Linked DNA regions of Homo sapiens: region 2 is linked to region 1. The links come from fine-mapping of genetic effects on gene expression. A gene starts in region 1. The other region holds a variant in brackets. All regions are shown on one strand. Distances are between the middles of the regions. Region 1 holds the start of PTPRO (protein tyrosine phosphatase receptor type O). Region 2 overlaps PTPRO (protein tyrosine phosphatase receptor type O).

Region 1 (4,399 bases):
ACGTTAGGTTTGGATCAGATGTCATACATATAACTCTTAGCTGTTGCTCGTAAAATGCATAGTGACTTGGTTTCTAATTTTTGGTTCATGACAATTATTGCATAGGTAAAATAGTTGTGACAGTTTGATAAATAGTTAGAAAACGACTAATAGACAACCTAATAAGTCTAATGCATTTATGATGTGTATGAAAGAACAACCTCCTACAGTAAAAACATATAACTGAGCTTATTATTTACCATACTTTAAAATTAATGATTATTGATAATTTAAGAAAAAATGTTAAAACATATTAAATATATTTTAAGGTCTTACTTAGGCATTCTGTTGCTGTTTCTCCCTGAATTTTTTTTATATTTTTCATTAAGATAAATGAAAATATGGAGTATTTAAAAGTAATGCTGTTCTTAATCCATTGGTCCTGTTCCATTATATTCTTTTTAGGCATTCATAATTAATGGTGCATATAAGCAAGAAGTGACTCTATAATAAGAAAACCTTTGGATCCATTAACCTGGCATCCATTTCTAGGGAAGGTATCACTGTGGTCCTGAAAGGATAGCTCCAAGTCACCTGTCGACATTCTTGAGTTTGCTTTGCGGAGAGAGGAAAAGACTAACAACAGAACTAAAGTAGATCCACTGAAGACATGAGTGATAGACAATCACTTCAGAACTTCACATCGCCGTCCAAGAAAACATCTAGCTGACATTTCTTCAAAAAAATTTATGTACAGTATAGTTGTCAAACTGATTTTTCAAAAGCAACTCCTTTGCTTTTCATTTTTCTCAAAGTAAAACCTCAGGGTAGCACATTCCAAAGAAGATACGAAAAAGTTTATTATTATATATTTTTCCACCATTAAATCTAGGGGTAATATCATCTGTAAATATAGTGGAGAAAGTCTGGAGACTTTTTAAAAGGAATTGTAAAGATGTTGATAGGAGTTGGGGAGAGGAATCCTTACCAAGCTCTCTACCTGACACTCCTTATTCAAAGAAAATTCTGCCCTAACGTAGCCCTGGCAGTCCATTTGTGTCCAGGGAGCTCAGTCCCCCTCCACTCTCCAGTGTATAATTCCAGCAGTAAGGAAAATTAAGACAAAGCATTCTGTGCGAGGGAGGGCGGAAAGGTTAAGCAGCGTTGGGGTGCAGTGGAAACCAGAAAAGAAAGTGACCTCATTTTGCCTGAGAAAGCACGATCCAACAAGCCCACCTTTGATGTGGATTTCAGCAGCGATAAAAGAGCACAAAGGGCGAAAGCCGGAGGGAGCAAACTTCCCTTATTCTTCCCCCCGCCCCCTACCTCTCAAGACCACCAGGAACACGCACACGCGAGGACAACAAAGCGTGCGCCCAGGCTGCACGGCAGGCGCTTCCCGCGGCTGGGCCATCGTGCCCTGGGGCGCGCCGCTCCCAACGGCAGAGCGAGGGCGCCGGAGCGCGGCTGCCGCCCGGACCGCTGGGAAAAAGGGGTGGAGGAGCTCCCCTACCTTGAACAGCACAAAGAGCCAGAGCAGAGGCAGGAGGCGGCGGGCGCCGTGTATCCCCGTGGGCAGGTGCCCCATCGCTGCGCGGACGGGGACTCGGGGGCACGGCTGCGCTAGCGGACTCCCCCGGCGGCGGCTCACAATGGCGAACTGGGGCTGCAGCCTCAGACCCTGGGCGCCGAGGTTGCTCCTGGCGAGCGCATGCTGCCTTTCCAGTCCCCCTGCGCCTGCTCCCTTTCCTCCTCTGCGCCCGGGGTCCTCCAAGAACGTGCCAGGCGCTGCTGTTCTTTAATGACTAAGGATGGAGAGGGTGGGGATTGGAGTGGGCGAGGCTCTGCCGCCGCCACCACCGCGGCTGCCAGAGGAGGCGCGGGGTCTGTGTGGTGAGCGAGAGGCGGGGACCCCGCGCCCAGCCCGCCGTAGTCCTCTGGCAGCAGGGACACTCTCACTCTGGCTGCCGACCCATAAAATGACAGCAGCCTCCCAACCCTCCACCAGGATCGGCCCGCTGCTTGCTACTGCTGGACAGCCCCCATTGCAGACTCCGCCTCAACCCCTCCCTCAATCTCTGGGTCTCAGGAGTTCTGAGGGGTTTCCCTGACCTCTCTTGAGCAATCCAGGCGCCAGATCCCAGTTCCCTCTCAATCTTCCTACATCTGTACTCAATTGCAGTTATAAAGGATCAATAACAGTTGGGTAGTTGTGACTGTAGAAATAGTGTGTAGTGTGAGTGTGTGAGTGTGTGTGATAGGAAGGGTATTTTCTCTCCTTCCCCACTGCTTCCATTATCTCCATCCCATTTCAACACTCTCACCGTCTCCGTCCCACACTCACCCAGGAACAAATAGCACAATTATGCACCTTTTCCATTTGAAATCCGCAGTTCTTGTACATTTCAGATTCTCTTTTGATACCAAAGTGTGTCGGGTCACCTGAAGCTGAATATAGAAGGGGGAAAAATCACAGTATTTTACATGTATGACCCTTGAACAACACGGGTTTGAACTGTTGGGTCCAGTTATATGCAGATTTTCTTCCACCTTTGCCAGCCTTGAGACAGCAAGACCAAACCCTCTTCCTCCTCCTCTGCCTGCTCAGCCTGAAAAGGATGACGTTAAAGACTTTTATGATAATTCACTTCCACTCAATGAATATAAATGTATTTTCTCCTCTTTATGGTTTTCTTAATAATATTTTCTGTTCTCTAGCGTACTTTATTGTAAGAATACAGTATACAATACATACAACACAAAATGTGTGTTAATCAACTGTTTATTATGTTATCAGTAAGGTTTCCGGTCAAGAGTAGGCTATTAGTAGTTAAGGTTTTGATGAGTTCAAAGTTATATGTGGATTTTCAACTACGTGATTCTCTGTGTTGTCCAAGTGTCAACGGTATGTACAGTTATATTTTTAAACAATTATCTGTGAATAATTTTACTGGGATGTTTTAGAATCACAAGCAACGACTTTCAAGCTGTGGGTCCCCAATCTACTACTTGTCTCCTTTTTTGTTATGTGTATTTTTTTAAAGATAAGTCTGTCGAAATCAACTCTGGTATGCACTGTTCAGATAGAAATCATTTCTTATTGTCATGTAAATTACCCTTGCTGTGCCCTGTCAGTATTGGAACTTATTTATACCTGAGACATGCTTGGGCAACAGGAGACAGGAAAGGCCACCCTGGTCATGAATGTAGGTGTTCAGGCATAGACTTTGTCAGTCACACAGCTAGGGAGTGGTGGCCTGAGAAAAGGATCCAGAGCTGTGTTTACTCAGCTTTTGCTGCATGAGCAATGGCCAAACACTAATCATTTGGTTGTTGTTTGTATGTGTCTTAAGGAAGCTTTAGATTGAATATGTTTACATAAGTGTGAATATGTATATATACACATGTGTACATGTACACATATGTGTACATGTACATATGTGTACACACATGTGTGTGCATGTACATATGTGTACACATATGTGTGTGCATGTACATATGTGTGTACACATATGTGTATGTGTGTACATAGATACATATGTGTATGCATACGTATATGTATATGTACGCATATGTATATGCATGGTACATATATGTATATATGTACCAAATTTCATATGCATGAAATATGTACCAAAATTCATATGCATGAAAATATAGAATGATGGTCTGAATTTTTGTGAGAATATTATCCTTGGTGTCTTCTTTTAGAAGCTTCTTTTGTTTTCACATTCCCATCACATGCTCTCTTCAGGTCCCTCATGTCCACTCATCATTGGTTTGGACATTTTCTTTCTTTTGAGAAAATGTTAACTGCTCCTCCCTCCCTCTGGGTTAGACTTACGGGCTATCTGAACATTTAATCCTTGGGATTGCACTTATAGGAACTTTGGTTTAATATGTTTTCTTTTTATTTTGACGCTCCTGAAGCAGCATTTTATTCCCACTCGCCCTCAGAAGTGGCTGTAAAGTGATCTAATCTCTAGAACATAAGATATATATAGGCCAAGGGCAACAATCACACTCACAGGATGCCAACAATTTCTCTTTGGAGTAGCATTTAATTTTAAAATGTGTCTGTGAATTATGGGTCTGTATGATGATATTCATTTGTGTGTATGCATATGTCTGTGTGTATACATGGATATAGCCTTGCCTGATGTGCGTAGGGCGTTTAAAGCAGTTCTGATCATAAATTAATCTTGTAAATGCTAAAAGAACTTTCACAATGAGGCTCCCTTTTAAATAATCATATTCTGCTGCGTCTTTCTGTTTTTCTCTTAGTCATACATCACAATTTGTTCAGCTCTTTCTGTCTTTGTGCATATATATATATATGTATATATATATATATATATATATATATTATGTGGACCACTTTGGAGGAACAATAACAGTAAACAGTAAGTAGTAAAGCATT
Region 2 (4,399 bases), 220 kb before region 1:
ATGCATATAGACACACACACACACACACACACACATATATATACACACATATATACACACAATATATGCATGTAATATGTATATATGTGTGAACGTACACACATACACATATACTCATATATTCTTTGCTAGTGTCACATTCTTTGAACTGCTGAGTCAAAAAGTGTACATTTAAAATTTTGAAAGCTATAGAAAAATAGTTCTCTACAGACATTTTGCAAGTTACTCACCTTTGGCATCAATGCGTGACAATGCCTGCCTCCCTACATTCTTTCCAGTACCATACATTTGCAAACTCTGAGCTTTCCCATTATTACTAGTGAAAATTGTATATTGTAGTTTTATTTTGCATTTTTTTTTTACCGTAAGTGAGGTTGCTGAAGTTTTCATCTGTTCAAGAGATTTCTGTATTTTTCTATGAAATATTTGTTTTGGGTTGTTGACCTTTACCTTTTTTGACTTGTAGCAATTCTTTATATATTAAGGACACTACACCTTTGTCTGCATTCTTAGCTTTTATATAACATCCACTAAAACATGGCAACTATCCGCACTAAGAAACATTTAGTATTAACTTATTCTTGAGTCAAAGAAGTTGCTAACTTGGTGGACCCATGGCCAGACTAGTGACAAGTACTACTGTACAACAGCAAAAGATGAGCCAGCATTTTTTTCAAAACAAGATTTTGAAACACCCTTGCATAAAGAAATGAGAGCCATCAGCATTTTCTTCCACTTCCTTCTCTTTCACTATTCTATAAAAGAATTATTCTAAGGAAAGACTTTTGCTAACAGGACTCAGTTGTAGTAAGTAGCTAACTAACCATTGTTTTCTTAAAGGAAGGCATCACTGTAGTTATAGAGAAGAAAATCCATTATTGGCAGAGCAGTTATTTTCCAAAAGGATTCTTAGAATAGAGAAAATTCAGCTGTTCAGTACAAATCAACAAGAGATACATTCATAGAAGGGAATCTCAAAAGGAGAAAGGAATCAAAGCAAATTATCTTAGCATTCAATATGAAAAGATTTGCACTCCCAGCATTCCTTTTTTCTTCTCAATCTCATGAACTTCATTATTTAAAAAAGATCAATTACTTATGTTCGCAGTATTAGTCTACACACTATATTATGTAAAATCCCTAACAAATCTGTCCTTTTCCTTTCACTTCTGGCTGTGAAATATTTTTTCCTTGTGGCGTTGCCACTCATAGAACTGCAGGTTCATCTCTTTCCTTTCATTCATTCTGACCTGGTGAATAACTCTGTTTATCGTATCTGCCATTTGTAATTCTAGAGCTTTAGCAATAACCTTCTCTCAGTCTTCATTTTGCAATAAGACTGTCCCCCTTACAAACTAGATATGCACGTTTCTTTTAAATTCTCTTGGTCGAATGGACCTGTCTTGTGGTACTTATATTTTACTTTACTTTTTTCTATACTTATGCAATGTCTACACCATATAAAAATGTTTTGAAGGCAAATATTGATTCTATCATGTGTGTTCTATTCAGTGCCTTTATATACTTGGCAAATGGTTCATATTTGTTAAATTATATTTTATATTGTAGGGTCTTTCTTCCCTTGATCAATTCAATGGCCTACTACCTTTATTCCTTTGTCTGACCTGGAGTGACTTATGAATTAGGAACAAGTGATACAGACAAAGATAAAAGTTCTCATAACAACTTTTGGGCTTGGTCTAAGCCTGCTGTTAATTTCTATCAGTGAAACACAAAAGAGCAAATAAACAGTTTTCATTTTATATAGCTCAAAGAAATAGAAGATTCTTATTTTGCCCAGATAATTAGCCTTACTTAAGTTAACTGAGAAAAGGTAGATCAAAAGGTACAGTACCTGAAGTTTGGTTTTCTGACTGGAGCCAACTTGTTGACAGAAAACTTCAAAGAAATCAGCTACTCCCTCTTCCACCCACAGCAAAGTCACTGAAGTCTGGGTTTTGTTCACTGCGAAGAGTGATTTGGGTGGAGCTGGTTCTGA[G/T]CAAAGACAAAGTTTTAAAAAAAATTTAATTTACTAAGTGTATTCTTTCTTCTTTCACTAATAAGCAGGTGAAGCATCCCCCAATTCAAATATAGGTAGGTAAGAGCACCATAAAGACTTTATATTGCCTTTGAAATATGTCCTTTCATAAAGATAGCTATCTAACTTGGAAGGCAGAATACTTTGCCTTTTCCCCCTTCCATTTTTTTACTTCTCTTTTCAGAACACTTCTGTTTTCTACTTCAGTTTCATCATAGTCATAATCTATTAATAGTTTCTGTGTCATTTATACTGAAGTTAGCATTGCCCTGATAATACAGAACTTCCTGGATGAGAAACAAAAATCTGCACTTAATAAAGGTGGAGAAAAATGAAATTTGGTGTGCTTCCTTCTAATGATGAGATGCAGTTTGGTATTTAGCCAACAACCTGTCTTCCTTTCTCTGGAAACTATCTGGAACAATTCAGACAGAAAAATGGCTGCTTGAAAATTTAGTCAAAATTTAAAAAGATAAAGCTAAACAGATAGTATCATTTTTTTTTTTTTTTGAGGCGGGGGTCTCACTCTGTCACCCAGGCTGGAGTGCAGTAGTGCGAACACAGCTCACTGAAGCCTCATCTTCCCTGGCTCAAGTGATCCTCCTGCCTCGACTCCCAAGTAACTGGGACTACCTGGCTTATTTTTGCATTTTTTGCAGAGATGGAGTTTTGCCATGTTGCTCAAGTTGGTCTCAAACTCCTGGGCTCCAGCAATCCACCCACTTTGGCCTCCCAAAGTATTGGGATTACAGGTGTGAGCCACCGTGCCTGGCTGATAATATAATTTTTTAAGAAAAGAATTGATAGGAGGGGATTGGAAGATTAATAAAACATTAGATAAATTTTTTATCTTAGACATTTTATCTTAATAATAAATAAATCCATTCGTAAAGGAAGCTGTGTTGTCTGTCCTTTTCATACTTATTTCTAGTAATTGAGTCACTGGCATTGCTCTCTTGAGACCAAAAAACCCTGCCTGTTCCTCAATTCTAATAGTCATCTGCTGTCTCATTCTCCATTCCTGAATGTCTCCTGGTCTTCTGCTTGTGACCCTGTCTTTTGGATGTTGTCTTTCCCTCTAGGTCCCCCAGTATGCAGAGTGCTGTGCCTGAACTCAAGGTTTTAAGCTGGGGTCCCTGTTACCTGCTCTCAGACCCCCTGACATTGCTTATTTGGACATATTGTACCTTGCTGCTAGGTTCACATAACAGCATCCTCCATCCACCTATATGCGCCTGTCAGACGACTACCCACTGTTGTAGGTTTCTTCCTGCTTGTTACTTGGATTTTTCATTTTCTGCCCCACTCTCCTAAGTCTGTTCTCCAGCTCCTGTCCTTTAGAGGTGCTTGAAAAAGTCCTGTCAGCCATTTCACTGCTTTGACAGGTACACATCTTTGTGTGGAAAGATTTGAACCTTGTTTCTAGAATATCATCATTGTGACTCTGCCCAGGACCAAGAAGTATGTCAAAATCATTCTTGCCATGATTTATCACAGATCTCCTAAACTTGTGTCCAACTAAAAAGAAGCATGTTTCTTTCCTGCAGCAACTTGACAAGGTTAGGCAGAAGAGTTGAAGGAGGAAAGAGATGAGTTCTTCTTAGGCAAGCAAAATTCACAATAGGTGTCAGGAGCCCTTTTTCACTTGCAATGAATTGTCCAGTCCTCCAGGCATTGTATTGTCCCACTTCTGCTCTGAGGAAGACTGCTAATGAAACACAGAGGTCAATTTCCACTTCTCACTTCCTTTATAACTGCCTTTGCTAATAGGATTATGTCCTTTAGGGATTCTGACTCATGTGGAACTTGAATCTATAGAACCAAGTGTGAAGTTGTTTGGGGGCATAGATGAATGATTAGTTAGGCTGAGCCTAGGCTTTTCTTTTTTAAAAATGCACACTACAGAATTGTTCCTCAGTCACAATTCTGAGGCTCTTCCCTTATTTCTCAGTCCCAGAGAGCATATCTTTTAAAAACTCGTTACCTTTTCCTTTAATCTTTTTTTTTTTTTTTTTTTTTGAGATGGAGTCTCGCTCTGTCACCAGGCTGGAGTGCAGTGGTGGTGCAATCTCGGCTCACTGCAACCTCTGCCTCCCGGGTTCAAAAAATTCTCCTGCCTCAGCCTCCTGAGTAGCTGAGACTACAGGCGCATGCCACCATGCCCAGCTAATTTTTTTGTATTTTTAGTAGAGACAGGGTTTCACCATGTTGGCCAGGATGGTCTCGATCTCCTGACCTTGTGATCTGCCTGCCTCTGCCTCCCAAAGTGCTGGGAGCTGGGATTATAGGCATGAGCCACCACCCCCGGCCTCCTTTAATCTATTTTTAAATTATATTGCATGTCTAGACTTTTGTGATCAC

The links.
Region 2: its variant is fine-mapped to the expression of PTPRO in whole blood (TOPMed, PIP above 0.99).

The regions. Positions count from the first base shown.
Region 1 is chr12:15,319,895-15,324,293 of GRCh38, reverse strand. It overlaps PTPRO (protein tyrosine phosphatase receptor type O), which reads right to left and starts at 1,786. Exons shown (of 27, transcript NM_030667.3): 1 at 1,493-1,786. The coding sequence starts at 1,567. All of the region lies in intron 2 of LOC105369673 (a long non-coding RNA gene), which reads left to right.
Region 2 is chr12:15,544,165-15,548,563 of GRCh38, reverse strand. It overlaps PTPRO (protein tyrosine phosphatase receptor type O), which reads right to left. Exons shown (of 27, transcript NM_030667.3): 13 at 1,856-1,995. All of the region lies in intron 1 of LOC105369672 (a long non-coding RNA gene), which reads left to right. Among named protein-coding and RNA genes, the nearest start is that of PTPRO, 220 kb to the right of the region's middle. The variant G/T (reference allele first, on the strand shown) is at 2,000.